Homo sapiens: one gene and its partners. The protein of the gene in region 1 purifies or fractionates together with the protein of each later gene. This does not show direct contact. Each region holds a gene or a part of one and is shown in the gene's direction. Other genes may lie near its edges. The genes, in order: HTR1B, SCAMP2, RFNG, KDSR, ADPGK, TMCC3 and ELOVL1.

The links.
Region 2: the proteins of HTR1B (region 1) and SCAMP2 purify together in Homo sapiens (affinity purification with mass spectrometry; one large-scale study listed by BioGRID and IntAct). This does not show direct contact.
Region 3: the proteins of HTR1B (region 1) and RFNG purify together in Homo sapiens (affinity purification with mass spectrometry; one large-scale study listed by BioGRID and IntAct). This does not show direct contact.
Region 4: the proteins of HTR1B (region 1) and KDSR purify together in Homo sapiens (affinity purification with mass spectrometry; one large-scale study listed by BioGRID and IntAct). This does not show direct contact.
Region 5: the proteins of HTR1B (region 1) and ADPGK purify together in Homo sapiens (affinity purification with mass spectrometry; one large-scale study listed by BioGRID and IntAct). This does not show direct contact.
Region 6: the proteins of HTR1B (region 1) and TMCC3 purify together in Homo sapiens (affinity purification with mass spectrometry; one large-scale study listed by BioGRID and IntAct). This does not show direct contact.
Region 7: the proteins of HTR1B (region 1) and ELOVL1 purify together in Homo sapiens (affinity purification with mass spectrometry; one large-scale study listed by BioGRID and IntAct). This does not show direct contact.

What each region holds. Positions count from the first base shown.
Region 1 is NC_000006.12:77,460,692-77,464,991, reverse strand, and holds HTR1B (5-hydroxytryptamine receptor 1B), read left to right. Parts: upstream 1-1,500; 5' UTR 1,501-1,588; coding exon 1,589-2,761; 3' UTR 2,762-4,068; downstream 4,069-4,300. UniProt on the Homo sapiens protein: G-protein coupled receptor for 5-hydroxytryptamine (serotonin). Also functions as a receptor for ergot alkaloid derivatives, various anxiolytic and antidepressant drugs and other psychoactive substances, such as lysergic acid diethylamide (LSD).
Region 2 is NC_000015.10:74,866,583-74,870,483, reverse strand, and holds part of SCAMP2 (secretory carrier-associated membrane protein 2), read left to right. Parts: intron 1-3,901. UniProt on the Homo sapiens protein: Functions in post-Golgi recycling pathways. Acts as a recycling carrier to the cell surface.
Region 3 is NC_000017.11:82,048,611-82,053,270, reverse strand, and holds the start of RFNG (beta-1,3-N-acetylglucosaminyltransferase radical fringe), read left to right. Parts: upstream 1-1,459; 5' UTR 1,460-1,504; coding exon 1,505-1,771; exon of another isoform or gene 1,772-1,806; intron 1,807-1,928; coding exon 1,929-1,977; intron 1,978-2,179; exon of another isoform or gene 2,180-2,339; intron 2,340-2,506; coding exon 2,507-2,609; intron 2,610-2,715; coding exon 2,716-2,869; intron 2,870-3,264; coding exon 3,265-3,353; intron 3,354-3,428; coding exon 3,429-3,594; intron 3,595-4,154; coding exon 4,155-4,240; intron 4,241-4,463; coding exon 4,464-4,545; 3' UTR 4,546-4,660. Other genes in the region: GPS1 (COP9 signalosome complex subunit 1), read right to left, coding at 812-1,015, 1,307-1,339.
Region 4 is NC_000018.10:63,350,084-63,353,984, reverse strand, and holds part of KDSR (3-ketodihydrosphingosine reductase), read left to right. Parts: intron 1-2,905; coding exon 2,906-3,097; intron 3,098-3,901.
Region 5 is NC_000015.10:72,752,602-72,756,502, reverse strand, and holds part of ADPGK (ADP-dependent glucokinase isoform 4 precursor), read left to right. Parts: intron 1-55; coding exon 56-252; intron 253-848; coding exon 849-947; intron 948-3,361; coding exon of another isoform or gene 3,362-3,388; exon of another isoform or gene 3,389-3,434; intron 3,435-3,607; coding exon 3,608-3,901. UniProt on the Homo sapiens protein: Catalyzes the phosphorylation of D-glucose to D-glucose 6-phosphate using ADP as the phosphate donor. GDP and CDP can replace ADP, but with reduced efficiency.
Region 6 is NC_000012.12:94,643,879-94,647,779, reverse strand, and holds part of TMCC3 (transmembrane and coiled-coil domain protein 3), read left to right. Parts: exon of another isoform or gene 1-1,342; intron 1,343-3,901.
Region 7 is NC_000001.11:43,364,931-43,369,379, reverse strand, and holds the start of ELOVL1 (very long chain fatty acid elongase 1), read left to right. Parts: upstream 1-1,368; 5' UTR 1,369-1,465; intron 1,466-1,665; exon of another isoform or gene 1,666-1,894; intron 1,895-3,756; 5' UTR 3,757-3,770; coding exon 3,771-3,816; intron 3,817-4,003; coding exon 4,004-4,194; intron 4,195-4,371; coding exon 4,372-4,449. UniProt on the Homo sapiens protein: Catalyzes the first and rate-limiting reaction of the four reactions that constitute the long-chain fatty acids elongation cycle.

The sequences.
Region 1 (4,300 bases):
TGGTGGAGCAGAAGGTTTAATTTCACATACAGTTGGCTTCTGTTTGTGATAACTTTTACATTTTCGCAGATAGCTTGTCTTTTTCCCTGTTGACTCATAGTTGAGTGAAAAACACAAATTTCTAAAACTAGATGAAAAAATAGTTTTTATTGTATCAAGAGTTAAGGACGGCAAAGTACAAAATGCAAACATTGGGCCCTCTACAGCGATATTACTGGTGCCTCCTAACCTGGGTGTGGCCATCAGGGCTGGATATGATTTTAGAGCGGAGAGGTCAGAGACCAGGGCTTCCCCGCCTAACACTGGCCTCCTAGGGTGGGAGTGGTAGGCAGGAGCCTAGGGCCAGACTGCTGGACTAAACCTGTGACCATGGCTAAGGACATGGGTCTCACTGGAGGTCAGCGCAGCAAGCTCTGATGTCCGTAGAGGCGAGAACAGGACGCCTTCTTCCCCTGACCAGAAATGCAGCTCCAGGTTGTCAGGGCTGGGAGGATGGCCCAGGGTGGGAAGCGGGGAGATAGGGCGGTAGGACCCGGCGGGAGCTTCCTTGGCCAGGAAAGGAACAGGGCGGGGGGAAAAGAGGGAGGGAGAGAGAAAAAGGGAAGGTGATGGGGAGCGGGCGTCCGCACCCGCCGCGCCGCACGAGTTGCACTGCTCTGGCGGACCGGACCTGGACTCTATATAAAGAGCCCATCTGCTCCGTAGCTCGCACGCTTCTCCCGGGCTGGTGCACGCCGCGTCCCTCCAGCTCCCCCAGACACCTGCCCCTTCCCAGTGTGCCGCGCCAGGTCCTCCAGACCCGCGCACCCAGTGGCATGGCTCCGAGTGGCTCCCGTGGGACCAGGGTGGCGGTGGCGGCGGCGCGGCCCGAGCAGCCGCAACTCCAGCCCCCGTGTCCCCCCTTTTATGGCTCCGTCTCCGCGGGGCAGCTCGTCCGAGTGGCCAGAGAGTGAAAAGAGAGGGAGGGCAGAGCTCCGGCGCGAGGCGCGGCGCAGCGCTGCTCCTAGACTTCACCCCACCCAGCTCTGGCGGCCGCTGCAGCCCCCCAAAAGTGCCCCAGCTTGGGGCGAGGGGTGGGAATGCAAGATCTCGGGACCTCTCGCTGGCCTGCAAGCTTTGGTCTCTACACCTAGGAAACTCCTGTGGGCAAAGTCTGCAGATCCAAAAGCGTCCAGGTTAGGAGACGCTCAGCCTCAAGCAACTGGGGTAAGAGATCCCATTTGGTCAAAGCCTTCTCCTCAAGCAGTACTTCACCCTCCTGCACTAGACGCCTCCAGGGAGCTGGAGCGGAGCAGGGCTCGGTGGGCCAGCTCTTAGCAACCCAGGTCTAAGACCCGGTGTGGAGAGGAACAACCACAGACGCGGCGGCTTAGCTAGGCGCTCTGGAAGTGCAGGGGAGGCGCCCGCCTGCCTTGGCTGCCGCACCCATGACCTCTAGTTTCAGCTGTGAACCTGGGCGGAGGAATAATTGAGGAACTCACGGAACTATCAACTGGGGACAAACCTGCGATCGCCACGGTCCTTCCGCCCTCTCCTTCGTCCGCTCCATGCCCAAGAGCTGCGCTCCGGAGCTGGGGCGAGGAGAGCCATGGAGGAACCGGGTGCTCAGTGCGCTCCACCGCCGCCCGCGGGCTCCGAGACCTGGGTTCCTCAAGCCAACTTATCCTCTGCTCCCTCCCAAAACTGCAGCGCCAAGGACTACATTTACCAGGACTCCATCTCCCTACCCTGGAAAGTACTGCTGGTTATGCTATTGGCGCTCATCACCTTGGCCACCACGCTCTCCAATGCCTTTGTGATTGCCACAGTGTACCGGACCCGGAAACTGCACACCCCGGCTAACTACCTGATCGCCTCTCTGGCGGTCACCGACCTGCTTGTGTCCATCCTGGTGATGCCCATCAGCACCATGTACACTGTCACCGGCCGCTGGACACTGGGCCAGGTGGTCTGTGACTTCTGGCTGTCGTCGGACATCACTTGTTGCACTGCCTCCATCCTGCACCTCTGTGTCATCGCCCTGGACCGCTACTGGGCCATCACGGACGCCGTGGAGTACTCAGCTAAAAGGACTCCCAAGAGGGCGGCGGTCATGATCGCGCTGGTGTGGGTCTTCTCCATCTCTATCTCGCTGCCGCCCTTCTTCTGGCGTCAGGCTAAGGCCGAAGAGGAGGTGTCGGAATGCGTGGTGAACACCGACCACATCCTCTACACGGTCTACTCCACGGTGGGTGCTTTCTACTTCCCCACCCTGCTCCTCATCGCCCTCTATGGCCGCATCTACGTAGAAGCCCGCTCCCGGATTTTGAAACAGACGCCCAACAGGACCGGCAAGCGCTTGACCCGAGCCCAGCTGATAACCGACTCCCCCGGGTCCACGTCCTCGGTCACCTCTATTAACTCGCGGGTTCCCGACGTGCCCAGCGAATCCGGATCTCCTGTGTATGTGAACCAAGTCAAAGTGCGAGTCTCCGACGCCCTGCTGGAAAAGAAGAAACTCATGGCCGCTAGGGAGCGCAAAGCCACCAAGACCCTAGGGATCATTTTGGGAGCCTTTATTGTGTGTTGGCTACCCTTCTTCATCATCTCCCTAGTGATGCCTATCTGCAAAGATGCCTGCTGGTTCCACCTAGCCATCTTTGACTTCTTCACATGGCTGGGCTATCTCAACTCCCTCATCAACCCCATAATCTATACCATGTCCAATGAGGACTTTAAACAAGCATTCCATAAACTGATACGTTTTAAGTGCACAAGTTGACTTGCCGTTTGCAGTGGGGTCGCCTAAGCGACCTTTGGGGACCAAGTTGTGTCTGGTTCCACAGGTAGGTCGAATCTTCTTTCGCGGTTTCTGGGTCCCAGCGAGGCTCTCTCTCCTGGGCAAGGGCAATGGATCCTGAGAAGCCAGAATAGTCCTGAGAGAGAGCTCTGAAAGGAGAAGTGTTGAAACTAAATGTAGAGCTTCCCTGCCCAGGAGGAGGCTCACTTCCTCCCCTCAAGCCCCGGGCTCAGCACTGACCCTGCGGCAGCCAATCCCAAAGGGGGTTGCAACTTTTAAAAATTGATAATGGAAGGGAATCCCTGCCCTGCTTTGGTATCGTGGATAATGCCCACTAGAAGCAGTGTACTTGTAATTGTTGTCTGAAGCCTGTCTGAGACAGATCTACATACAGCCTGGCAGTACTTGAACTAGACGCTTAATGCCCTGTGTTTTTGGGGGGAGAACTTTGTGTTACAGCTTAATTTAAGAACAGTTACTTTGGCATCATTCAGTCTTCACTTTTTGTCTATTTAAACTTGGTTGGAGAAACTTGTGGATTTGGTGCTTCAAACCCTATGTGTGGCTTGGATGGCGCAGAGAAACCTTGAAGAGTTAACAGCAAAATTCTGATGCTGAGATCTCTATTTTTATTATACTTGAAACTATATGGGGGTGGGTGGGTGGGAATGGGAGATGAGGAGTGTTAAACTGAGAATCAACACCTATGATTGTTTGTTTTCTGCAGATTTACAATTTTGTAATTCCTGTTTAGCGATTGTCAAGCCACAACTCTAACAAACAAACCATTATGTGTGCTAGTGCCGAAGTCTGCAGACTGCTTTATTTTTTCTCTTAATTTCATGTACCTGTCACTTTACACATTTAAATCCCCATAAATGAAGGGTATGATGGGTGACTCAGCCCACACTGCTGCTATATTTCTTACTAATGCAATTGGTAAAACCGATTAGTATTGGAAATATACTGTTTCTTAACAAGAAAAGTGTCTTTATTTCTTATCCAATTTAGTGAGATGTGAAGGAGACTGATGACATGGGGATAGTTCTTACACAATTGAGGAATGGGGTGGGGGCAATAGGAGGATGTATATTTTGACTTGTAAAAAAATCTTAAAATGCATGAAACTTTTATCTGATAGTCATTTGCACTCTCCTTCCCATCTGTGATTCCTTGTGTGCTAACATATAAAGAAACCAAGAGAACTATCTTCCTTCTCCAGAAACCTTAAAAATACAGTTAAGGGCCCTAAAAACGATATTGAAAAGAAAATAAACTTGTTTCTTTTTTGTTGTTGTTGTTATTGAAGTTTGGGCAGGAGAAAAGATTGCTAGAAAATGACATATAAGAACTTTAGAAAAGCTTAGAGAAACTAAAATTGAGCCTGTTTTTGTCTTGTTTTTTGTTTGTTTAAAAAAGAAAAAATTGCAGAACCAAACCTCAGACTTACTAACAATCAGGAAACTGGCAAGCTTTTGACCTTTGTAAATTTGTTACCAACCTGATATCTCAATTAATATA
Region 2 (3,901 bases), on another chromosome or scaffold:
CTTGTAGCCTTATGGTGTATGTTGTATGTGATGATTTTCCATTTTTTATGTGTGTTTTTTTGTCCTCTCAGAATCAGAAATAAAAAGTCTGCTGCTGTCTGACAGAGAGGAAGTCAGTTGTCTAAAAATGCAGAGAGCTTTGCTCCAGTGTTAGCAGAGGGCAAGATAGTTCTACCCTGTATTAATAGCTGCTTGAAAGTCTTAAACCTCATCTCTGGCTCCAAAAATGACTGTGCAAACTGTGGTAGAAGTAACTTCTGCATTCTAGCGAGACAGTCTGTCCATCAGGAAGCCCCAGGATATGGCATGACAGGAAGCAGCTGTGGTCCTGTCAACCAGCCACATCTGGTGGGGAGTCCTGGGTGGGAAGAAGAAAGCTGGCTGGCTGGCTGCGATTTGCTCCTCCTCATCCTGGGCTGGGCTTTTCCTCTTGGCACACAGTGGTGTGGGGAGAAACAGCTTTGGATGTGAGGCCTCTGAACCTTCTCCTGGTCAGAGCTGCCCACCTTTTCCTTGAGATGGTGATGTCTGCTTCCTTGACTGCCAGGGCTAGGACGTTGGGAGGTGTAGCCCTTGGGTGCCTGGGTGTGAGCCCAGCTTCATTTACTCAGGGTGTTGGCACCAAGCTCAGGAGAGAGCAGGTGGAGAGGCGATAGACTCAGAAACTGTCACACCTAGTCACACTCCAGAACAGTCGTTTTTATTTCCGTCATGCAGTGACAGAAATGGTGGATTGCAAAAATATACCTAGTGTTCAGAGCTCATAGTTGACTGTTAAGAGCTGAGAACATTCTTAGAACTCTATTCTAACCTCTTCAGTTTAGAGATGAGGAAACCAAGACCTCAATGAGGATGGTATGTGCCAGAGTCATCAGTTGTTTAGCAGCAGGAAGGTGCTGACCTGGGTCTCATTCCCAGGACAGGGCTGTTTTAAAGGTTTTGAAGCTCAGACATTGGTGTTAAACTGCACTGGGGCTATTTTAGGCTGGCTAAGGAAAGAATGGAATGTAACATCATCACAGTTGTCACCATTCTTGAGAGTACTGGGAGTGGTGAAAGTAACAAATTAGTATTAGCTAAGCTACATTTTTTCTCCAGTGTGAGGGGATGGAATAATACAGATCTTGTGCTTTTGTTCTTTAATTTTTTTATTTTTTATTATTGGTTTTTTTTTTCCACTGGAGAACAATTCTTGGGCTTTTTAAGACAGTTCTTTAAAGCAATATATATTCTGAGTAATGCCAGTCCTGAAAGGTGCTCATGGTTCTGTGGTCAAATAGGTTTGGGAATTGCTACCTATTTCGTTTTTGTTTCTTTGTTTATGTTTTTTGAGATGGTGTTTCGCTCTTTTGCCCAGGCTAGAGTGCAATGGTGCGATCTTGGCTCACTGCAGTCTCCACCTCCTGGGTTCAAGCGATTCTCCTGCCTCAGCCTCCTGAGTAGGTAGGATTACAGGCACCCACCACCACGCTCAGAATTTCTGTATTTTTACTAGAGACAGGGTTTTACCATGTTGGCCAGGCTGGTCACGAACTCCAGACCTCAGGTGATCCACCCGCCTCAGCCTCCCAAAGTGCTAGGATTACAGGCGTGAGCCACTGTGCCCAGCCTGTTTGTTTTTTCAAAGATTCACAAGGCTTGGCCAGGCATGGTGGCTCACACCTATAATCTCAGCAATTTGGGAGGCCAAGGCAGGTGGATCACTTGAGGTCATGAGTTTGAGAATGGCCTAGGCAACATGGCAAAACCCCATCTCTACAACAAATACAAAAAATTAGCTGGGTGTGGTGGCATGCACCTGTGGGCTCAGCTACTCGGGAGGCTGCCACAGGGGGATCACTTGAGCCTGGGAGGTGGAGGTTGCAGTGAGCTGAGGAGTGCCTTTGCACTCCAGCCTGGGTAATAGAGTGAAACTCTATCTCAAAAAACAAACAAACCAAAATAAAGATTCACAAGGCCTGTTAGTTTGTTAAAGGCTCTGAGAAATCCTACAAAAAGACATTGGCTCAGCTTTATTTGACCCAGCATTTCTCAAGGTTATTCGACCATGGAATCTGTTTTCTGCTCAGTCGTTATATCCTTTGAAACTCCCAGTGCACCATTTAGTTGACTTCCTCATCCAAGGTTCTTTATTAAGTGCCTGCTTCCACCCCGCACTGTGGGCATGTGCTTTTATGACCTCTTCCTTGCGTGTGGTTATGATCGGGATGATTAGAAAACTTCCTGCACAGAAAGAGCTGTGAATGGGAAGTTAAGATATGAGTGTGCCACAGAGGTTTGCCCACCTCCTAGGAGGAAGCAGGAAACTGCAAGCCAAGTGTTGTTGATTTCACAGCCTCCACTGGCACACCCTAATTCCTCTGTTGGTTATGGCAGCTGCTTTGTACCCTCTGAGTATTTCGGTCTCTGCTTTGGAATGATCCAGGGTGTCTGCTCCCAAAAGTTTCTCATTAAGTCTTGTCAGGTGATGAAGGGGTGGAAAGCTAAAGGGAGTCATTGTACTGTCCATTTTTCAGCAGTCCACTAAAAATCAGACCACCCAGGCAAGTGCCTAGGGCTGCTTTCCCACTCAGCACTTCTGCCAGATTATCCCAGGCAGACAGCATTGATCTCAAGGAGAGGAAGTGGAATAGGTGGTGGCATTGAACAGAGAAAACCTTTCAGTGTTTGTAAGTTGCCAAGTCACACAATATCACTTTCACACATTGCCTCCTTGCAGTTAAAAGATAATCTCAGTGTTGTGGCTGCTTCCCAAGGATTTGAAATATTTCTCTCCTGTGGAAGGAAGAAGTGGTGGCAGAAACGTGATTTGGGTGTGAACAAAGTTACTTGAATTTCCCTGTGCAGACAGTGGGACCTTCCCAGAGAGGGTTGGCCCCAGCTTGACCATAACTTTGGGAATTCTTGGAATAACCAGATGGACCTGGTAGAACTTTCCTGTGTAACAGAGCATTGTCTCAAGAAATTTGAAAATGGCAGGGTTCTTACAGCTTCACTGTGACTACAGACAGCTGCCCAGATAGGATTCCTGCCTTTATGGTTGGCACCTGGAGCCAGGCTGGGTGTTAAAACTTGGGTAGAGAGATAGGTGAACTTTGACTCTTCCGTTAAGTCTTCTTTGGAAACACTTGGGGTAAGATAATCTTAATTTCAGAGAAATGGTAATATTTAACCAGGACAAACAAGGGGTACTTGCTGTTCATTCAGAGAAGAGTGCTGTGCACATTTGCAAACTGTGACCCATCCAGCAAGTGCTGCTTTGAGATGTTCACGTTAGTGCACATCACTGAGGTCATGCTGCTCTGCAGGCCTGTGCAGGAGACCATGGTAAATGAGCACAGTATGTGATCAATGGCTTCTGGCAGGAGAGCTAAGAAATACTCACTGAGGCTGGGGCGCAGTGGCTCACGCCTGTAATCCCAGCACTTTGGGAGGCCAAGGCGGGCGGATCACAAGGTCAGGAGTTCGAGACCAGCCTGGCCAATATGGTGAAACCCCATCTCTACTAAAAATGCAAAAATTAGCCAGGCGTGATGGCGGGCACCTGTAGTTCCAGCTACTCGGGAGGCTGAGGCAGGAGAATCGCTTGAACCCGGGAGGCGGAGGTTGCAGCGAGCCGAGATTGCACCACTGCCCCCCAGCCTGCATGACAGAGCGAGACTCCATCTCAAAAAAAAAAAAAAAAGAAAGAAAATAAATGCTCACTGAGAGTGACAGCACATCACAAGTGGGATCAGGGCAGTGTCCAAAGGAGCTGGGAGGGCTCTCAGGAGGAAGGGCAGAGACCTGTGGCACAGAGGGCTTGGACTGAAAGCAGAAAGCCTGGCAGATGGGAAAACAGGGTTATTCATTTATTTTTTGAGACAGAGTCACACTCCCGAGTAGCTGGGATTACAGGCGT
Region 3 (4,660 bases), on another chromosome or scaffold:
CAACATGGGCCAGGCACCTGGCACCTCGTCCTGGGGACTGCCCCAGGAGGGCGAGAGACCCGCACTGTTCTCTGAGGTCAGCTCTGCCCAAGATCTTCCAGGCCAGTCGGACCACACTCCCGCCGCTGCTGTCCCCCAGGTGTGCCCTCCCAGTCACCCCCGCCCCCACCCAGGCTCCTGTGCCACCACATCAGGGAGGGGTCTCCTCACAAGACTCTAAGGCTCAGAAGCAGAAACCCCTCGCCTGATTCTAGCCGCTCATCTCTGAAAGCCAGAAAGCAGACAGGGGACAACCAACTACACAGGGGCCTCTGAGGGCCCCTACACGTTCCCAGCCACCATCCTGATGTAGTTTCCTCCAAGCCACGGAGAAGAACGGGACGCCACCTCAACCCCAGGAGGCAGGAGGACCAGCCCCCGGAATCTGTCCTGAGCAGCGGAGCAGCAATACTGGGCTGAGAGTCACGCCACGGAGTTGGGAGAAGGGGAAAAGAGTCATCTCAGGGAGCCTCATGGCCCCCAGCTGGGAGACACAGAGAAGCCAGGACCTCGGCTTAACACAAAGCAGGCTGGAAAAGCCGCCATGCCGGGCACTCGCCGGACCCGTGGGCCTCCCGCGCTCCTTCGGGAAAAGCACCAAGAGCTCGGCTCCCTCCGCAGGCCCCGGGCCCACCGGGGCTCCCTCCCCTCCTGCGCTTGGCACTGAGTCCCTGTCCTCGGCCAGCAGAGCAGCAGGGGCCCAGCCACAGCAGGGGCGGCCGGGGCCCTGCTCCCCCCTCCCTCGCTCGGGGGTCCCTGTCCTGGAAGGTACCTCGTAGAGCAGCGTACAGGCCGACAGGCTGGCGCTCAGGCTGAAGTCCCCGGCCGTGCCGGGCAGGACGAGGTCTGACCTACTGCTGTGAGGGGTGCAGTACAGATCTGTCACTGACGAGGAGGCCGAGCTGGGGGCCGAGCTATCCCTCATTCTGTCCTGACTTTCTGCACCCCCCGACCCTGACACAGAGCTGGCTGGCTGCTGAAGGGAGAAAGAGCGTTAGCGTCGGGGCGGCCGGGAACCTCTCCCGTGAGCTGCTGGGAGGGGAGGCGGGGCGGGCGCGGCCCGGCGGCCCCCGATCGCAGCGCGCAGCCACGGCGGAGACGCGCCCTCGGCCCTGCAGCCCCCGACGCGCGCTGCCCGCGGAGGCCCGGCACGGAGCGTGCCCGACCGACTCCTGGCGCAGGCCCCGCGCCCCTGCTCGACCTCAGCCCGGCCCCAGTGGCGGGGGGCGCGGGGGCGCGGAGGCCCGGGGCGGCCTCGGCTCGTTACCTGCAAGTTAAACACCTGAACCGGCAGCGGCATCTTGCACCCACCCCGCCGCGGCGTGCCGTCCACTTCCGGGGCAGCGAAGCCGTCGCTTCCGGGGCGCGGGGCGGGGCGGGGCCGCTGCGTTCTTAAAGGGGCCGCCGCCCACCCACGGCTCCGGCCAGGTTCTCCGCTCGCAGCGCCGGGGGTCCCGGCGGCCGCATGAGCCGCGCGCGTGGGGCGCTGTGCCGGGCCTGCCTCGCGCTGGCCGCGGCCCTGGCCGCGCTGCTGTTACTGCCGCTGCCGCTGCCCCGCGCGCCCGCCCCGGCCCGGACCCCCGCCCCGGCCCCGCGCGCGCCCCCGTCCCGGCCCGCTGCCCCCAGCCTGCGGCCTGACGACGTCTTCATCGCCGTCAAGACCACCCGGAAGAACCACGGGCCGCGCCTGCGGCTGCTGCTGCGCACCTGGATCTCCCGGGCCCGCCAGCAGGTGCGCCGGACCCCGACCCCGACGGCGAGCCCCACGCCCACCCGCCCCGCCTCCCAGGGTCTAGGCCCGGCCCAGGCCCCCGGAGGCTCCGCGCGGGGCGGGTCGGTCTCCGGCCTGGGCAGCGCCCCAGAAGCCTCATAGATTGTTTCTCCCCCAGACGTTTATCTTCACCGACGGGGACGACCCTGAGCTCGAGCTCCAGGGCGGTGAGTGTCCCCCACTCCCCGGCGCCCGCGGGATCTGCCCCCCGAGCCTTTCTCGCTCCGAAGCCACGGCCCCTTCGCTGCTGTGGGTGCCTTTCTCTGCCCAGGCTCCCGAGGCCCGGGGAGGCCCCGACGCTGCCCAGGTCACGCGGCCTGCGGAGGGCCCACCCTGCCAGCCAAGCTCTGCTCCCCACCAGCCTCTCACACTAGCCGCTTCCCGGGGCGTGGGGCTAGTGCCACGTCCCCTGAAGAAGCGCCAGCAGGGAATCCGCCCTTCCAGGCCAGGTCAGGGCGAGCTGCCTCCGTCCTGTTTCCACTCAAGAGATCCCAACCGATGGCCGCCTGCTTCAGCCTCGGTGGCACCAGCAGGGTCAGCGCGTGAGGGCTAGGGCTGTGGTTGGACCCAGGCAAGGTGTCCAGGCATGTCAGACAGCCACGTTGTGCCCTGGCCCTTGGGGGCAGGTGGGGCACAGGCCTTACCCCAACCCCAGTGCCATCCTCTACGTGCGTGCTTCCCGTCTCTGATTCGCAGGCGACCGTGTCATCAACACCAACTGCTCGGCGGTGCGCACTCGTCAGGCCCTCTGCTGCAAGATGTCCGTGGAGTATGACAAGTTCATTGAGTCCGGGCGCAAGTACGCGGCGCTGACCCGACCCGCAGAGAGCTCAGAGCCAAGCTGGGTGGGGGCCTCCTGTCCAGCCATGCCAGGCCCTCGTGCCCAGGACTCCCCTCGCCCACAGGTGGTTTTGCCACGTGGATGATGACAATTATGTGAACGCCAGGAGCCTCCTGCACCTGCTCTCCAGCTTCTCACCCAGCCAGGACGTCTACCTGGGGCGGCCCAGCCTGGACCACCCCATTGAGGCCACCGAGAGGGTCCAGGGTGGCAGAACTGTGAGTGTCGGAGCAGACGCCATCGGAGCAGACGCCTTCCTTGACACCAGCCCGGGAGGCACAGCAGAGGGCGTGGAAAGCTGGCTTGAGAAGGGCATAGGGTTGGGGGCCCAAGCTGATCCACCCAGGTGGTTTGCATGTGGTGTTTCAGGAGCAGGCCAGGAGGCCCTCACCGTACTGGGCAGAGAGGGGGTGTCTGGGCCAGGTGGGGAGGGTCTGGAGGCTACGGGTCAATGGCCTGCAGAAGCCCCCGGCTCTTTTTGCTCCAAGAAGCTTCTGTTACCTGGGTGGGATCTCCTAAGGGGCAGCTTAAGAAAGATGCCTGGGGAGTCCCATGAAGAGTCAGGGGTGAGAAGCCCTGTCCTGGGCAGCTCTGACCACCACCCCATCTTCAGGTGACCACGGTCAAGTTCTGGTTTGCTACTGGTGGGGCCGGGTTCTGCCTCAGCAGAGGCCTTGCCCTCAAGATGAGCCCATGGGCCAGGTGAGTGGGGGTCCAGCTGCCCGGGCTGGGAGGCGGAGGCTGAGACCTGAAAGGTGCTGACCGGCCTCCCCCCAGCCTGGGCAGCTTCATGAGCACAGCTGAGCAGGTGCGGCTGCCGGATGACTGCACAGTTGGCTACATCGTGGAGGGGCTCCTGGGCGCCCGCCTGCTGCACAGCCCCCTCTTCCACTCTCACCTGGAGAACCTGCAGAGGCTGCCGCCCGACACCCTGCTCCAGCAGGTACAGGCGCCACTCTGGGTGCCTCTGCCACCTGGGCTTTGCCCCGCCCTGACTCCCCCAGGGGCCCCACTGCCCCGGCCCGATGCCCGGCTGAGCAGGCAGGTGGGATTTGCATGTGGCTGGGGGTGGACCCTGGACAGGCCCCTTGGCCTGTTGGACACAGGGTCCTCACGTACAGATGGGGTATGGTGTCTGGGGCAGAGGAACGAGGGGAGAAGCACAGTTCTCGGGCCAGTGAGGCCCCATGCCAGCTGGGCAGTGGGTGTGGTGTGTATGGTGATGGTGAGTCGGAACAGGTCCCATCACGTGGAGCAGGGAGGGAATGAGGGTCAGCTTTGCCCTGGAGGTTTCAGATCCCTATCTTCTGTCCCCCAGGCTCTGCCTGAGGTGTCCCCCTACTCAGCTCATGCCATGCTTCAATGCTGTTTCCAAGCCTGGCCTCCCCGAGGGCCTGGGGAGAGGGGGTGGGCAAAGGGGCTCTAGCAGGGCTCCTGGCCAGGGGCAGGCGTGGCCCGAGACCAGACCAGGCCACACACTCTGCCCACACCCTTCCCTCCCAGGTTACCTTGAGCCATGGGGGTCCTGAGAACCCACATAACGTGGTGAACGTGGCTGGAGGCTTCAGCCTGCATCAAGACCCCACACGGTGAGTAGGTAGTGGCATGGGCAGGCCCTCGGCCCCGCAGGGGCTCTGGCATCAGCTCCCTCTACCCACGGCCCTGACCCCCGCTGCTCCCTCCGCCCACGGCCCTGACCCCGGCTTCTCCCTGTACCCACGGCCCTGACCCCAGGTTCTCCCGCCGCCCACGGCCCTGGCCCCCGCTTCTCTCTCCGCCCACGGCCCTGACCCCTACTTCTTCCTTCCCCAGGTTTAAGTCTATCCATTGTCTTCTGTACCCAGACACGGACTGGTGTCCCAGGCAGAAACAGGGCGCCCCGACCTCTCGGTGACACCAACCACCCCGACCCAGGGCTGCCTGGCTCTGTCCCAGGCGCGGGGAACCAGAGCCCCCTATGGGCTCAGTGGGCTCCCTCAGGTGCCACGGCCACACCAGTGAGATGCAGG
Region 4 (3,901 bases), on another chromosome or scaffold:
AGTGAAATTCATATAACATAAAATTAACTGTTTTTAAAGTGAGCCATGCAGAGGGATTCAGCATATTCACAATGAGGTGCACCCACCCCCTCCGCCTAGTTCTAAAGCATATGCATCACCCATAGGGCGGCCCTCACCTGGTAAGCAGTTGCTCCCCATCCCTGCTCACCCCCACACCCAATCTCTGACAACCACCAATCTGTATTCTGTCTCTGGTCATTTCGTATGATTGGAATCATGATATGTGCACTTCTGTGTCTGACCTCTTTCTCTTAGCATCAGTTTTTGAGGCTCATCCACATGTAGCATATATGGGTGCCTCATTCCTTTTTATAGGGTGGTGATATTCCTTTGTATGGATCGACCACATTCTGTTTAGCTATTCATCATCGATGGCCATTTGGGCTGTGTCTAGCTGACTGCTTATTAAATAGACTCTTAGTCCCTACTCCTGTCTCAGCCCCATGCCAGCCCACCCTTCCCTCCACCCCAGAGACTCTTGCAGCTGGAGCCTTTTGGGGTTCTGTAGTAGAATCTGGCTTTTTAGTTTCTCCACTCCCCGCTTAGCATTTAGTTTTTTGTGGTCTGCTAAGTTAGTTATCCCTCCTCAACCTGTTCTTCAGCTTCCAAAAGGTTATTGCTGTTATTTTTATTCTTATTTTCTTTGTTCTTGTGTGTTCTTGCCTTAAAAAACATCTCTTTACGGAGATTTTAGTAAGGTTTCTAAAGGGAGCCAAAGTAAACACAGGCGTTCAGTGTGACGTCTTTTTTCAGATATTCTTTTAGAACTTTCTTTTTTTTTTGGAGACGGAGTCTTACTCTGTCACCCAGGCTGGAGTGCAGTGGCTCAATCTCGGGTCACTGCAGCCTCCACTTCCCAGGCTCAAGCAATTCTCCTGCCTCAGCCTCCCGAGTAGCTGGGATTACAGTTGCCCACCACTATGCCTGGCTAATTTTTTTTTTTTTTTTTTTGTATTTTTAGTAGAGTCGGGTTTTCACCATGTTGGTCACGCTGGTCTCGAACTCCTGACCTCAGGTAATCCACCTACCTTGGCCTCCCAAAGTGCTGGGATTACAGGCATGAGCCACCGTGCCCGGCTTAGAACATTTTTTATTATCAAAACAATATTATGTTACGAAAACACACTTTTGGAAAAAAAAGAGAATCCCAGCATCCTAACTCAGTCACTTATGATCTTCTGTATTTCCTTGGTCTTCCCTCTGAGCATGTGTACTTTTACTTAACCTTTGAAGTAATTACAGTTACAGCATATATACAGTCTAGCTTCTGCTTTTTAAACTTAAATAGCATAGATATTTTTCCCTGTCACTCCCAGTGTTTCTGGTCATCATTTAAAACAATTATCTAGGCCAAGTACAGTGGCTCACACCTGTAATCCCAACACTTTGGGAGGCCGAGGCAGGCAGATCACTTGAGGTCAGGAGTTCGAGACCAGCCTGCCCAACATGGCGAAACCCTATCTCTACTAAAAATACAAAAAATTAGCTAGGCATGGTGGCTGGCGCCTGTAATCCCAGCTACTTGGGAGGCTGAGGCAGGAGAATCGCTTGAACCCAGGAGGCAGAGGTTACAGTGAGCCAAGATCACACCACTGTACTCCAGCCTGGGTGACAAGAGCAAAACTCCATTTCAAACAAATACAAACAAACAACAATAAAAAAATCTAATATTCTCTTGAATTAAGATATTATGATTGTATGTTCATGTTCTGTTCATAATATGAAAAAAAATTATGATTGATCTCAAGTTCCACAATTGAGGTATTTAGTTTTTATTTACATGATGATCTAATATTTTTACAAATATTTGAATATTTGAAACATTTTAATGCAAGTATTATTAAATTTTCGAGTTAAAATTTAAGGTTTTTAAGAGCTCAGGCTAGGCGCAGTGGCTCATGCCTGTAATCCCATCACTTTGGGAGGTCAAGGCAGGAGTACTGCTGGAGCCCAGGAGTTCAAGACCAGCCTAGGCAAAATAAAAGGACCCTGTTACTACAAAAAATACAAAAATTAGCTGGACGTGGTGGCATGTGCCTGTAGTCCCAGGTCCTCAAGAGGCTGAGGCAGGAGGATTGCTTGAGCCCAGGAGATTGAGACTGCAGTAAGCCAAGGTTGCACCATTGCACTTCAGCCTGGGTGACAGAGTGAGACCCCGTCTCTAAAAAAAATGATAATAGTAAAAAAGCAAAAAATAAATAAATAAAAATTAAAAGCTTCCAAGACAAGGAGAAAATACACTATTAGTACTCTTACCCATCATAATGGGAGAGCCAGTGGTTCTTGAGGTCCAGGACTGTGCTAGCGCTTGTGTTTTCTCTTTTAATCTTTGCAACAGCCCTATGCGGTCATACCCTTGTTGACCTTGTTTACAGCCAAGAAAATAAGTAGAATGTCTGACTTTCTTATTCATCATCAAATAGGCAATAAATGGGAGACCCAAGGCTTGAAACCAAAACTTTAAATCACCCTCCTACTCTGTGTTTTTCTTATAGCTTAGAACTAATAGGGCTACAAATACTTGGAACCTCTTTCCTAAAACTGTCTTTCAGAAAGTACTACCCACAAACATGCAGTATACTTTTTATAAGGAGAAAACTAACTTTGACCAGTTTTCAGGAAAAACATTAACTGCTGTCATGGTCAGAATGCAAGACTAGACTGAAACAGTCTTCAAATGGTAGGTCCTGAGTCTTCAAATGCTAGGTCTCAAATCACATTTCATTTATATCATCATGTCATCATTCATTCATTCAGCAAGCCTGTTGGGCTTCCCAGTCACTTGAGCTTGCATTGAAGAACTGAAATCCAGAAAGCAGACTAAATTCTCCATGTGCACAGCCTTGAGGCTTTTGACCTCATGTGGCCTCTTTGTTCCCTGCAGAGGTTAATGAGCATCAATTACCTGGGCAGCGTGTACCCCAGCCGGGCCGTGATCACCACCATGAAGGAGCGCCGGGTGGGCAGGATCGTGTTTGTGTCCTCCCAGGCAGGACAGTTGGGATTATTCGGTTTCACAGCCTACTCTGCATCCAAGTTTGCCATAAGGGGATTGGCAGAAGCTTTGCAGATGGAGGTAAAAGTTGTATTCATTTTTGTATTTATTCCTCTCCGCTCAGCAATATACATTCCGCTTTAGTTTTATAGCTTCTTTACATGTGTTGTTGTATTAAATTAGAGATTTTTAGGTTTGACATTGGTGAAAGAGAATTGGCTCAACCCTGAGTTTTGCAGTTAACATTTTTCATTGCATGAAGACTATAGTTAACGACAGATGCAAAATGGTAATGGGATTTTTGCTTGTTTAACTTAATACACAAAATATTAGTGATATCTTCATAGTGTTATTAGTCTAATACTGTGTGAATGTGAGTAAGGTTAACCAGATATTTTATTTTATAGAGATTTTTCTTTAACAAGAAGTTTGTCCTTATGACTGAATAATACGTGAAATTAGTATATGTTTGAGGGAAGAGCTTGAATCAGCTGCTAATTTTTAGCTTTTAGACAAGTCATTTAACTTGCTCTCAGTTTCCTCATCTGTAAAATGGGAGGGTTGGAATAAAGCAATAATTTGACTCTCCCAATATTTATATTTTTATATCTTAAAGAATTGTTGGGAAAATGAATGCTTTTTATTTACATAGTTAATGGAACATTTTGTGGAAGAAGGATGTAGTTAGGATTTGCATCAAAATAGCGTCTGTCATGATGAGTGCAACTTTACACCTCAGCTGCTTGAAGCCGACTTCCACATTATTGTCACACAGGAATGCTTAGAGAGCATCACATACGTATCTACCCAAAAATCACATGCTGAAAAAGGCAAGGGAAAGTTCTTTCTATTGCTGTGTACAGTCATCCCCTCTTATCCGCAAGG
Region 5 (3,901 bases), on another chromosome or scaffold:
AGGAGACCTAAAGCCTCTTCCTTTTCTTCCCATTGTGTTGACTGGGTTTTTCCAGGGGAGGAGTGGGGCCAGTTAAAAGCTCCCCATGCCAACCGATTCATCTTCTCTCACGACCTCTCCAACGGGGCCATGAATATGCTGGAGGTGTTTGTGTCTAGCCTGGAGGAGTTTCAGCCAGACCTGGTGGTCCTCTCTGGATTGCACATGATGGAGGGACAAAGCAAGGAGCTCCAGAGGAAGAGACTCTTGGAGGTAATGGCACTGTTACAGAATTTCACAGATCTCAGCTGGTGGTTTTCTTCAGGTTCCAGCCTCTCTTGGCATCTGCTGCCTTGTCTTAGGTCCTGGCCTCCCAGGGACATATCTTGGCAGCTGGCTGTGGAGCTTGCCTCCTGCTGCAGTGAGGCACCTCACTGTATCCCTTCAGATGTGGGCAGCAGCTTGAGTAGGACAGGGCAGAACATCTTCTTGCCTGAGCCTCTGCATCCTGTGCTAAACCGACCATGGCTGCAAGCTGCAGGGTTTGTAGTTTGTGTCCTTTGTGTTATTTGTATCATCTCACTTCACATCAGCTATGCTGCAACTCCTACAGATTCGTACAGCAGTCGAAGTGAACTGCCATCTCTGATTCTGTATCCCTGATGGCTCTGCACAGCCTAGTCTTCCCTGGTGGGAAGAGTGTCCCTTGTCCACAGAGGTGGTGGGGACCCACATTGCTTGTAGCTCCCGTGAGCATGCAAAGAAGGCCATTACCAGGAGGAACCGCCTCTCAGGATCTGATCTTTTCTTCCCTCTTTCTTGACTTCCTTCTATTTCTAATGGCAGTGCTTATCTTCTTCTCTTTGCAGGTTGTAACCTCCATTTCTGACATCCCCACTGGTATTCCAGTTCACCTAGAGCTGGCCAGTATGACTAACAGGGAGCTCATGAGCAGCATTGTCCATCAGGTAACCTCATGGGACCATCGTTTGGCCCTGATCCTCATAGAGCCTTGCAGAGAAGCTTTTTTGTGCAGTGGGACCATCTGTTTGGGCTCAGGGACTGGCTCACTGACATGTAGGTTTGTGTCACTCAGACCCAAGTCCATGGAGATCCAAATAAGGATCCAGGACTGTTCTGAAACAGCAGTATCTCCTACTAGGTTAAAGTTATGGCAGTGTAACTGACAGATTGTTGATCATATTTCTCCTCTGGAATGGAAAAGTTGAAAGTGAATGGAAAAAACTGAAAGCCCAGCTCAGCTGCTTTCAGTTGAACTTCAAGAAGCTCAAAGCAAAGAAACTTTGAGGGAACCTCCCTCCTTCCTCAGGCATCTGGGTGTTCAGTGCCTGCCTCTGGGCAGCAGCATTGACTAGTATAAATCTGAGCAGGTGAAGCTTCAGAACACAAGCTCTGGAGACCTGGGTTCGCATGCCAGCCTTGCACTCACGGGCTTCATGAACTCAGGCAAGTTACCTCACCTGGCAATCTAGTGTTACCTAATTTTAATTGGTAATATATTCATTTGGTTAAAAAATACCCAAAAACTATGAAAAGATATACAATGAAGTCTCCCTTCTACTTCCTCCCCTTCCCTACTTGCACCCTTCATCAGTTTATTTCCAGAGTTCTTTTGTACAAGTATAAGAAAATACAGAAATATATCCTGATTTTGTTTTCCATCCCTTTTTACCCAAAAAGATAGCATAGCCTACTGAATACTCTGTTCTTCACTTTGCTCTTTTTTTCACTAAATATATCTTGGAGATCTTCCTGCATCACTAACATGGAGAGTATCCTCTGTCTTTTCATAGCCATATGGTTAAAATGAATGTGTAGATGTACCTCCGTTTACTTAACCTGAACCTTCTGGATGGACATATTGGTTATTTACTGCCCTTTGCTGTTACACACAGTGCTGCAGTGAACAACTTGATACATGATTTTGTTTTGCCTGTGAACAAGTCCATATTTAGGAGAAAGTCTCAGAAGTAGAACAGCTGGACTGGAGCATAAAAAAGCACTTGTAATTTTGAGATTGCCAGATTGCCCTCCATAAGAATTATACCAGTTTACTTCCCACTGGCAATAATTACAAATACTTGTTCCCTCATATCCTTGCTACCAGAATGTTAAAATTTGCATTTATATCAGTCTGACAGATGAAAAAATGGTATTTCAGTATACAGTCATCCCTCGTCATCAGCGGTGTGTGGGGCGGCGGGGGCGGTTCCAGAACCCTTCCCAGATACTAGAATCTGCAGATGGTTAAGTCCTGCAGTTGGCCCTGTGGAATCTGTGGATTAGACAAGTTGGCCCTCCCTATCTGCAGGTTCCACATCCTTGAATACTCTGTTTTCCATCTGAAGTTGGTTGAAGCCATGGATATGGAGGGCTGACTGTCGTTGGTTTTGTTTTTTTTTTTTTTGATAGACTTCATTTTTTTTTTATGGTAATATTAGGTGCATAGCAAAATAGAGCAGAATCCAAGAGAGTTCCCATATACTTCCAGTCCCCTCACACACAAGCCTCCCCAACTACCAGCAGCCTGCACCAGAGTGGTACATTTGTTAAGCTAGTGAGCCTACACAGGCACGTCATCAGCACCCAAAGTCCATAGTTTACACTTGGGTTCACTCTTGGTGTTTTTCAGTATAGCTTTTGTTTGGGTTTTTCTTCTCACCTTTAAAAAAATGAGCCATTTCTATTTCATTTTCTCTGTAACTGTCTACTTAACCCTTCTGAGGCTTAGTCTGTACAATGGAGGCAGTCCCTCCTTCCCTCAGAAGATTACAGTAAGAATTGGATGAAATAAAGCCTTTAGCTCAGTGCCTGACACAGAAGAACATGCAGTGAAGGAAAGCTGCTATTGCTCCAACAAAGATGTAGGCCATTAAATTTTTAAAACCATTTTATACATGCACACATACATACAAGGACTCCTCTCTCCTGCAAAAATTGTTACCTTAAGTGTGGTTCTCTGGTTCTAAGGAGGGAAGTGCTAAGTAAGAAAGACAGGGAGGTGGATATTGTGGTTCCCCATCAGACAGAAAACACGGGCACCTGTTTGGTAATCTTTTTCTTACAGTGTTATTGCTAAATTCAGACAGTCTTCCTAACCCACACCTGCTTTTAAAAAGCTTAGCTCTAACATGAAACTGTATGCTTTTTGCTTCTTGGTGTTTTGTATAAAAAAAATCATTATAACCCTGACAGTATGTTGCTTGAGGTCTCCATTTTACTGGTCTAATACTGCTGACATTCAGGAACTGAGAGCCATGCCCCATCAGTGGTAAGAGTATCTCCTATGTGTGCAGTGGCAAAAGCTAGGGACCATGGAAAGAAACACAAAATATAGACACCTCTGCCTTTTGTCTTACAGTGGCATATCACAAAAGACTGCATCTGAAACAATGTTACTGCAGCTTTCCAGTTTCTCCCAAATGATGATGAAGGTGAAGATAGGGGTGTGATAGCTAAAACAGTGACTTCAGGGCCAGGGAGTCCTGTATCAAGGAAGAAAGCTGCCTGCCTGTGTTCCCTGTCATTTAGTCACTGGCTGTGTCATAAGACATCTTAGGAGCCAGGTTATCTCCATCAGAAAGATACCTGTTGTTGTTTTTGTTAGCAGGTCTTTCCCGCGGTGACTTCCCTTGGGCTGAATGAACAGGAGCTGTTATTTCTCACCCAGTCAGCCTCTGGACCTCACTCTTCTCTCTCTTCCTGGAACGGTGTTCCTGATGTGGGCATGGTCAGTGACATCCTCTTCTGGATCTTGAAAGAACATGGGAGGAGTAAAAGCAGAGCCTCGGATCTCACCAGGATCCATTTCCACACGCTGGTCTACCACATCCTGGCAACTGTGGATGGACACTGGGCCAACCAGCTGGCAGCCGTGGCTGCAGGAGCTCGTGTGGCTGGG
Region 6 (3,901 bases), on another chromosome or scaffold:
CATTTAAATGATCGTAGCTCCTGTATTGTGGAACTCACTTGGATGCAGCTGTAAAGATATGTTTTCCTGACACCCAGAACGTATGTGATGCGAGAGGAAGACATCGAGTGCTAATTTCTTGATGTCACCATCTCCTTGGGAGGAAACTAGTATAGGATTTAAAAAGAACCCTTTTATGAACTCATTTGGTGAATTAGCTCCCCTAAAAATGCCAATGAGAACTAGGGGGTCATGGGAAGAGTCGACTAATCTTTCAGGGATATGGAGTTTCTGCCTAGAAGTGGGCAAAGACTCCATGAGATGAAGTTCTTAGTTACTGAATGGTCATTTTTTAAATTCAAAATCAATACCTGTTGAGATAACAGGGAAACTACATGGTCTGTCTTGCTGGGCTTATTTCAGCCTTTGAGACTGGAATAATAATGAGGCAGTGTACTCTTTCAACATTGCAGAAATCTATTTTTACATCTAGGTGGACTGACCTAGATAACCCCTCCCCCCTTAGTGAAAATGTAAGTAATGAATTCTGTGATTGTTGCTAAGCTGACAAGTCAGGATCATTCACATTTTAAAACTTCATCTTTGTAAAACTCAGAAATGGTGCTTGTTAACTTGATGCACATATCTCTCTACTTTAGAAGAAAGAGCATCCATAATTAGACTCCTACTTTTTTTTCATGCCCTAGATAGTTAAAGCCTATCATCTTTTTAAGAATACAGGCCGTCTGCTTTCTATACAGTAACTGGCTTTTATTAATGATGTGTGAATTAGGTTTTCTTTTAGTTGGTTTTCATTTTAAGTGTTCTAAAATGCCCTCTCCAGCCACTTGAGTATAGTGGTGGACAGCTGGGGCTCTGGACCTACGTGGGTTGTATTCTGGCTCTTCGAGCTTCTTAACTGGGTGACCACTGGGGCAAGGTCCTAAATAGCCTTTCTGAGCCTCCAGTTTCCCATCTGTAAAAGAGGTAATACTCCACTCTTCTGGGAGTGATTGTGTGTCTTAAATAAGAAAGTATTTGTTTTTTAAAAAAAAAAAAAAAAGCCAGGCACGGTGGCTCACGCCTGTAATCCCAGGACTTTGGGAGGCCGAGGCAGGTGGATCACCTGAGGTCAGGAGTTCAAGACCAACCTGGCCAACATGTTGAAACCCTGTCTCTACTAAAAATACAAAAATTAACCAGGCATGGTGGCAGGTGCCTGTAATCCCAGCTACTCGGAAGGCTGAGGCAGGAGAATCTCTTGAACCCGGGAGGCGGAGATTGCAGAGAGCTGAGATCGTGCCATTGCACTCCAGCCTGGGGGACAAGAGTGAGACTTCCTCTCAAAAAAAAAAAAAAAAAAAAAAAAGGTGTGTGCTTTCAAATATTAGCTATTTAAAAAAATTTTTTTAAATTTATGTTCTCTCACTGGGTGAAAAAGCTGTATTTGTCTATATGTCAGGTTAATAATTTTTTTCTATTTTGTTGGTGCCACTACTAATCAGAACTGCTAGTCATCTTGAGTGCCTGCCCTCCCCCATCTCTCTAACCTATTAGCAATACCACCGCACCTTTCTCTGACATTTCTCTGGAATTGGTTTCTTCCATATCTCCCAATCATCCCCCACCTTAGTCACTTATGACCTTCACCAACTTCTGTTCCATCCTGCATGCAAGGACCATATTATTTTCCCTACAGAACCATTTGCATTAGGATAGTCCCCAGAATACAGATCTTGTACCAGTGCTGTTTGCTACCAGTGTAATCTTGGATCCTGTAATCACTCTAAGCCTTAGTTCCTACTTCTACATAATAGGGGTGTTTTGAGGAATAAATTCAGTAATGTCTATAAAATGTTTAACTCCATGCCGGGTGCACAATAAGAAATCAATAGATGTTAACCACTTTTACTATAGGCCGAGCATCTCAATCCAAAAGCCAAAATCCAAAACTTTTTGAGCGTCAACATGACGCTCAAAGGAAATGCTTACAGGAGCATTTCTGATTTCAGATATTTCTATTTGGAATGCTCAACCAGTAAGTATAATACAAAGATTCCTAGGCCGGGCATGGTGGCTCATGCCTGTAATTCTAACACTTTGGGAAGCCAGGTGGGTAGATCACTTGAGTTCAGGAGTTTGAGACCAGCTTGGCCAACATGGTAAAATCCGGTCTCTACTAAAAATACAAAAAAATTAGCTCGGCATGGTGGCAGGTGCCTGTAATCCCAGCTACTAGGGAGGCTGAGGCAGGAGAATCGCTTGAACCTGGGAGGCAGAGGTTGCAGTGAGCCAGGATTGTGCCATTGCACTCCAGCCTGGGCAACAGAGGGAGACTCCATCTCCGAAACAAAACTAAACAAAACAAATTCCAAAATCTGAAATCTGAAACACTTCTAGTTCCAAGCATTTTGAATAGGGGACCTGTACTATATGAAAGAGGGATTTGTGAGCTTAGAAACGGAAAGGCTGCTAATTTTGTGAAAAGTATAGACTTTTCTAGCATTGCTAGCATTTTGTGCCTCCTTGCGTCATGTTTCTCATGACATTGACTGTTTATATGTTTAATGCTTACATGTATTTATAAACTATAGACATTGGCACTTTGAGAGCAAGATGCTTCGTTTATTCAAAAAATACTTACTGAGCACCTTCTGTGTGCTGGCTGCTGATCTAGGCATCAGGAATACAATGGTAAATGAAACAGTCTGGTCTCTGTGGAAACTTAATATCTGGTGGGTGTATCTCATTTATTCTTGTGGTTCCGGACAATACCCCTGTCTTGTACAGGAGAACATGATGATAATACATGCAGAAATCTCTAACATCTGAAGTAAAACTTGTGTCAAGCGTGAGTGCCACCTGTAGTATATCTTCAAGTGTTCTGTGGTTTGGAAATCCATCTACAATTACATGATGAGTAATGACCAAAGGCAGTGAAGAAGAGGATGCTGTAGCCCTTCTCACAGTGGAACTGGTTGGGCAGTGATGTAGTAAGTTGATGATCACATGCTTACTCCCTGGGCAGGAAATAGGGGGAGTGGAAACTGACCTCTGTCCTGGAGGACACTGACCCGGTGAAGTGGTAAGTTGAGTAGTACACAGATATCGTTTTCACCGGTGATTTGTTTTGTTCTAAAGAGCCTCTTAAAGAGAATGAATAATGGTGAGTGTCTCAAGCCAGGTTTTTCTTACATTTAGGATGAGCAAAGTGATGCGGTGTGTGTTTTTCGAGCTGTACTTTGTTGCAGGCTTTTCCTTTAGAGGAGAAGGAACTGCCGGCCACCACCAGCTCACCCGCCTGTCACATCCGCTGTAGAGATCACCAAGACAGCTGCTACCAAGTTGGATCTCAGGGTGTATTTTGCTTCAGACCCTCTGCCGGCATCTCCAGGACTGCTGCTAAGGTCAGAAATCAACCTAGTCCTACTTGGAAAATGCCCGCAGCTTGACTTAGAAGAGTCTGCAGCTTTCAGCCCTGTGGTTTCTTAATTGTGTTTTCATGTTTTCAGTGGAGGGGAGGAGGGTGACAAGAGAAGAGGAAGAGAACCATGAATCACTGTACTGTGAATCAGAATGAGGACTTTTCATTCCTTCGAAAGAGAACATCAGGATATATGATTTGTGCATAGGCCAACTGCTTCCGTCGACTTGGGAGGGGTGCTGCCTGAAAGGAACCATAGTATATTTGTGGATTATTCCTCTGTAAGGAGGTAAAAAGAACATAGGTGAAAGGAAGAATGCAGTCACAATAATAGTTAATGTGTACTGAGTGCTTACTGTACACCAGGCAACATGAAGCACTTCAAATACATGATCTCCTTGGTCTTCCACAATATCCCACTTTTCCATTTTACAGATGGGGAGGCTGAGGCCCAGACAGATTATTAGTTTCTCTAAGATCTTGTGGCTATTAGGAAAC
Region 7 (4,449 bases), on another chromosome or scaffold:
CTACAGACGCCCGCCACCACGCCCGGCTAATTTTTTGTATTTTTAGTAGAGATGGGGTTTCACCGTGTTAGCCAGGATGGTCTCGATCTCCTGACCTCGTGATCCGCCTGCCTTGGCCTCCCAAAGTGCTGGGATTACAGGCGTGAGCCACCGCGCCCGGCCTTTTTTTAAAAAAATGTGTTTATTTTCCTTGCGGAGCAGGGCTGCCCCATAAGCAGTGTGCCCAGAGTAGCCCAAATTCCCTAATTCTGTCCGCACTTACACCATCCAATCATACAAGCAGTTGTTAGATCGTTGTGTGCTACTGTTCCAGGGGCCGCTGGAGGTAGAAATTCCATTTCACTAAAATCTAGTCTGTCCTTTGCCCCCACTAGTTGAGTCCAGTTAGTGAGTGTGGAGGTGGGGGCTGGAGGTGTAGAAGAGATAAATAAATATATAGAGAGCCAGTCCAGCTGTCTGGAGGACATTGTCCGCCTCCTCCAATCCCATCAGTTGCCACATCTTCTTTGGTCAGGCTGGCTTTCTCACCTGGTCTCCTTTCTGTGCCCTCCTCACACTGGCTGCCAAAGTGATTCAGCCAGATAGACTGCAAGCCCCGTGAGTGCACGGACGGTGGGTGGTCCATAAACGTCTGATGAACTAATGATACAAGCTTGAATATAGTCTCCTAAAAAAATCTTTAGTTTCTCCTCTGCTTCTAGAATAAAAATCAGATCGCCCCATTTGGCCTTCAAGACCTACTACATTCAGCCACAGTCAGCTTCATTTCCCTTTTTTCCTTTCACTACCTCGAAGGCCAGATTAGCCAGTGATTCACTATGCTTGCCCCGGGCCACTTGTATCCTCTCACCTCCGTTCCAGGCAGCCCTCGCAGCAGATCCTAACGCTTAGGGCTCCTCCAAGTGTACAGGCTCGTGAGGCTTCCCTCCCGCTAAGACCAGTGCGCCCTCAGCACACGCAGTGTGGTCTCGCCCGCCGCTCTGCGCTCGCCCTGCAGGAGAGGGAGCTCTTTGAAGGCAAGGCCGAACCTCCCCCGAGCCCTGAGCTGGGCCTGCCGCCACAGATGTGCAGTCCTGCCGGGGAGCAGTCACCCGGGGACAGGGCCGGGCCCCGGGCTGCACGTCGGGAAGAGACAGCGTGCTCCTGAGGTGGCCAGGCCGCTGCAACTGGCCAGGGCGGGCCCGGGCGGCGAGGGAAGGGGTGGGAAGCCCGGGCCGCGGCGCTTCCTGCTGGGACCCGGCGGCACGCCCCTGCCCCCGCCCCGGCCGAGCCTGCGCTGCCGGCCTCCGGCCCTGCCGGCCGCCCAATCAGCGGGCGCCCCCCGCGCGGCCCGCCCCTCCCCCTCTGGTGACAGAAAGTCGGCCCAGCAGATGAGGAAGTGGCAGGCAGGCAGGCTGGCCCCGGGGACTTCTCTCTGGCCCTGCTCCCTCCGAGCGCTCCGCCGTTGCCCGCCTGGCCCCTACGGGTGAGTCTGGACCTTCCACGGACTCTCCACGTGCCGGCGCCCCCTGCCTGGCCAGCCCGGCCCAGCCCGGCCCAGCCCTGCCCTGCCCTGCCCAGGCTGTGGGCGAGGGTGTTCCCGGGGCCAGTGGGTGGGAGGTCCCAGCTCCCTGGGGCCGGGCCTCGCCAGCACCCTCCCTCCCCCACACCCCCGTCTCTGGCCCCCATTTGCCTACACCCGGGCCTTCCTCCACCACCCCTGCATTTACCTCTCTCCCTCCTCCTCTCCCCTCCCTCCCCCCGCTACCCTAACTTTGCCAGGCACCTTTTCCCTTCCATCCATCTTAAAGGAAGGAAGGGACGGGCTGAGTTCCCCGACGAGAGACACACCCAGATTTTCCTGCAGCTTGGGGAGAGGTCCTCCCAGGAGCCTTGGTCCCTCCTGGCCTGCCGGGTGTGTGGGTTGATATTGGGGGCTGGTGGTTGAGAGATAACAGGCTGGCTGGCTCCCATGTGTCAGGGAGGAACCTGTGTTGGCGCCCTCGCCCCGGCCTGGGCCCTGCCGGCGATGGGCGGCCAGCAAGCCCGATGGTGGGGGAGCAAGTAAGGAGGGGATCCGAGCGTGGCCAGGCAGCGCGCACACGTGTGTGAGTGGCCCCGCGGGTGAGCCCGTGCGTGTGCCTGGGCGGTGGCCGAGCTGCGTGAGGGCCGGGAGCCATGCGTGTCAGCCCACGGAGGTGTTGCGTGGTGTGTCAGGCAGGAGACGTGTGTGCCAGCCCTCGGCGTGGCACCTTCGCTGTTGGGGGTGGAGAGCTAGGTGAGAGGTGGGTGTGGACCGCAGGCTTGGGGCCTGACCACGGTGGGCCTAAAGAAGCCGGGCCTCCTGGAGGTGAGGGGTGTGCGGGGCAGGGAGGTGTCAGAGGTGCGCCTCTTCACTTGGCATCTGCAGAGGTGCTTCTCTGGAAGCAGGGAGTCTGGGGCACCTGCTGCCCTGGGCCCTGCTCTGTTCCAAGAATGCCTTGTCCCTCAGGGACTGTCAGTACCATGCTCTCCTGGGTCTGGCCAGAGGCTTTTGTGTCCCTGGGAGCCTTCCCCCGACATTCCTTCAGGCCCTGAGGGGGAGGGGGCCTAGCCCAACGGGGCCCCTCCCTGAGGGAGGGGAAGATTCCTGCGACCTCCCCCACTCCCCAACCCCTTCACATGCCACTGGCTTCCCTGCCCTTCCCAGGAAGGGAAGAGTGATTGTACCCATTCTGAAGTAGGACAAACTGAGCAGTTATGGCCGGCTTAGGAGAGGATGCTGGGTGTGGATTTTCAGCAGTGCTTTGGGCCAGGGCTGGGGCTGGGGCTGGGGTCAGAGGAGGTTTCTGGCTCAGAATCTAGGACCTTAGCTCATCAGGCTGGTCCCACGTGGGTGGGTGGGTGGCGAGTCTGGGGCTTTACTTGGCTTTCCCAATCCTGGTGGGTCCTGCTCCCCCAGGCACTGACCTGTGGCCCGGACCCACCCTCCACCCCCTGCACAGTACAGCAGGGGCGGGCAGAGGGCGGGGCTGCTGCCAGATCTAGTCAGACAGGTGGAGCCGCCGGGGCAGGAGTCTCAAAGAGCCAGGCTCCAGGAGAGGAAGGGCTCTGCGAGAGGAGAGAGGAGAGCGCTGGAGAGGAGAGGCTGGAGGTGAGAGTCCCAGGAAAGGCAGAGGAGAATCGTAGGGACATAAGTGTCCCAGCACAGGCAAGGAGGAATCCGAGGATAAGGTTCTGGAGGGACAGAAGGGCCCAGAGAGGTGAGAGTCCTGGCAGGGACAGGAGGGACCCTGGGGAGAAGAGAGTTCAGGAAGGGTCCAGAGGGATGGGAAGAGGAGAGGGCAGGAGAGGAGAGATTGAAGGGGAGAATCCCTGGAGAGAAGAAAGACCCAGAGCTGGGGAGGTGAGGGACTCGGGTGAGGAAGGGAGACGGAGTTCAAGAGCTCCCTGTTGGTGAGAAGGTAAGATTCTCCAGTAAGAGACCTGGAATTGAGAGTTATCTTGTGGAGGAAGAGGGGAAGGGAGGCCAGGAAGTAAAACTGTGGAGAGGAGAGGAGAGTAAGGTGTGGAGAGGAAGGGTGGAACAGCTCTTCCCAGGCAAGCAGGATGTGTGGGGAGCAGATGCCTCAACCAAACTGCCTCCTCCCCCTAGTTCCCAGTAATTCCTTCCTTTCACTGTTCTGTCCTTTCTGCAATGAGGCATTGCAGGTGTCTTGTCTGGTTCTGTGTCTTATCTCTGTGGGATGGGGGTGTGCAGTGGGATCTGTCTGACATCCGCCCTCTGTACCTCCCCAGAGTCCTTAGCCAGGATGGAGGCTGTTGTGAACTTGTACCAAGAGGTGATGAAGCACGCAGGTAAGACGCTATCCACCAGCCCTTTCCTTCCTTCTTTCCCGGGATCCCTGGATCTACGGCTGTCTTCTAATGGAGAGTTCCTATGAAACCCTTGATCCTGTGACCTGACCTCATGTCTGTAGACCCTTCAAATGAAGACCCTTCGAACCCTGTGACTCTTCCTGATTCCTTTGACCCTTATTCATAGATCCCCGGATCCAGGGCTACCCTCTGATGGGGTCCCCCTTGCTAATGACCTCCATTCTCCTGACCTACGTGTACTTCGTTCTCTCACTTGGGCCTCGCATCATGGCTAATCGGAAGCCCTTCCAGCTCCGTGGCTTCATGATTGTCTACAACTTCTCACTGGTGGCACTCTCCCTCTACATTGTCTATGAGGTGGGCCCCTGGGATGCCGGGCTTTAATTTCTGTCAGCAGGATAAGGAGCAGGCCATAGAGCCAGAGCATGGCATTTCTCCTTTCCAGAGAGGTTCAGATCCATGTCCTCAGCTAGCGAAGGGGAGGGATGGCTGGGAAGGGAGAACTCTGGTGGTCTAATCCACATCCCTTCCCAGTTCCTGATGTCGGGCTGGCTGAGCACCTATACCTGGCGCTGTGACCCTGTGGACTATTCCAACAGCCCTGAGGCACTT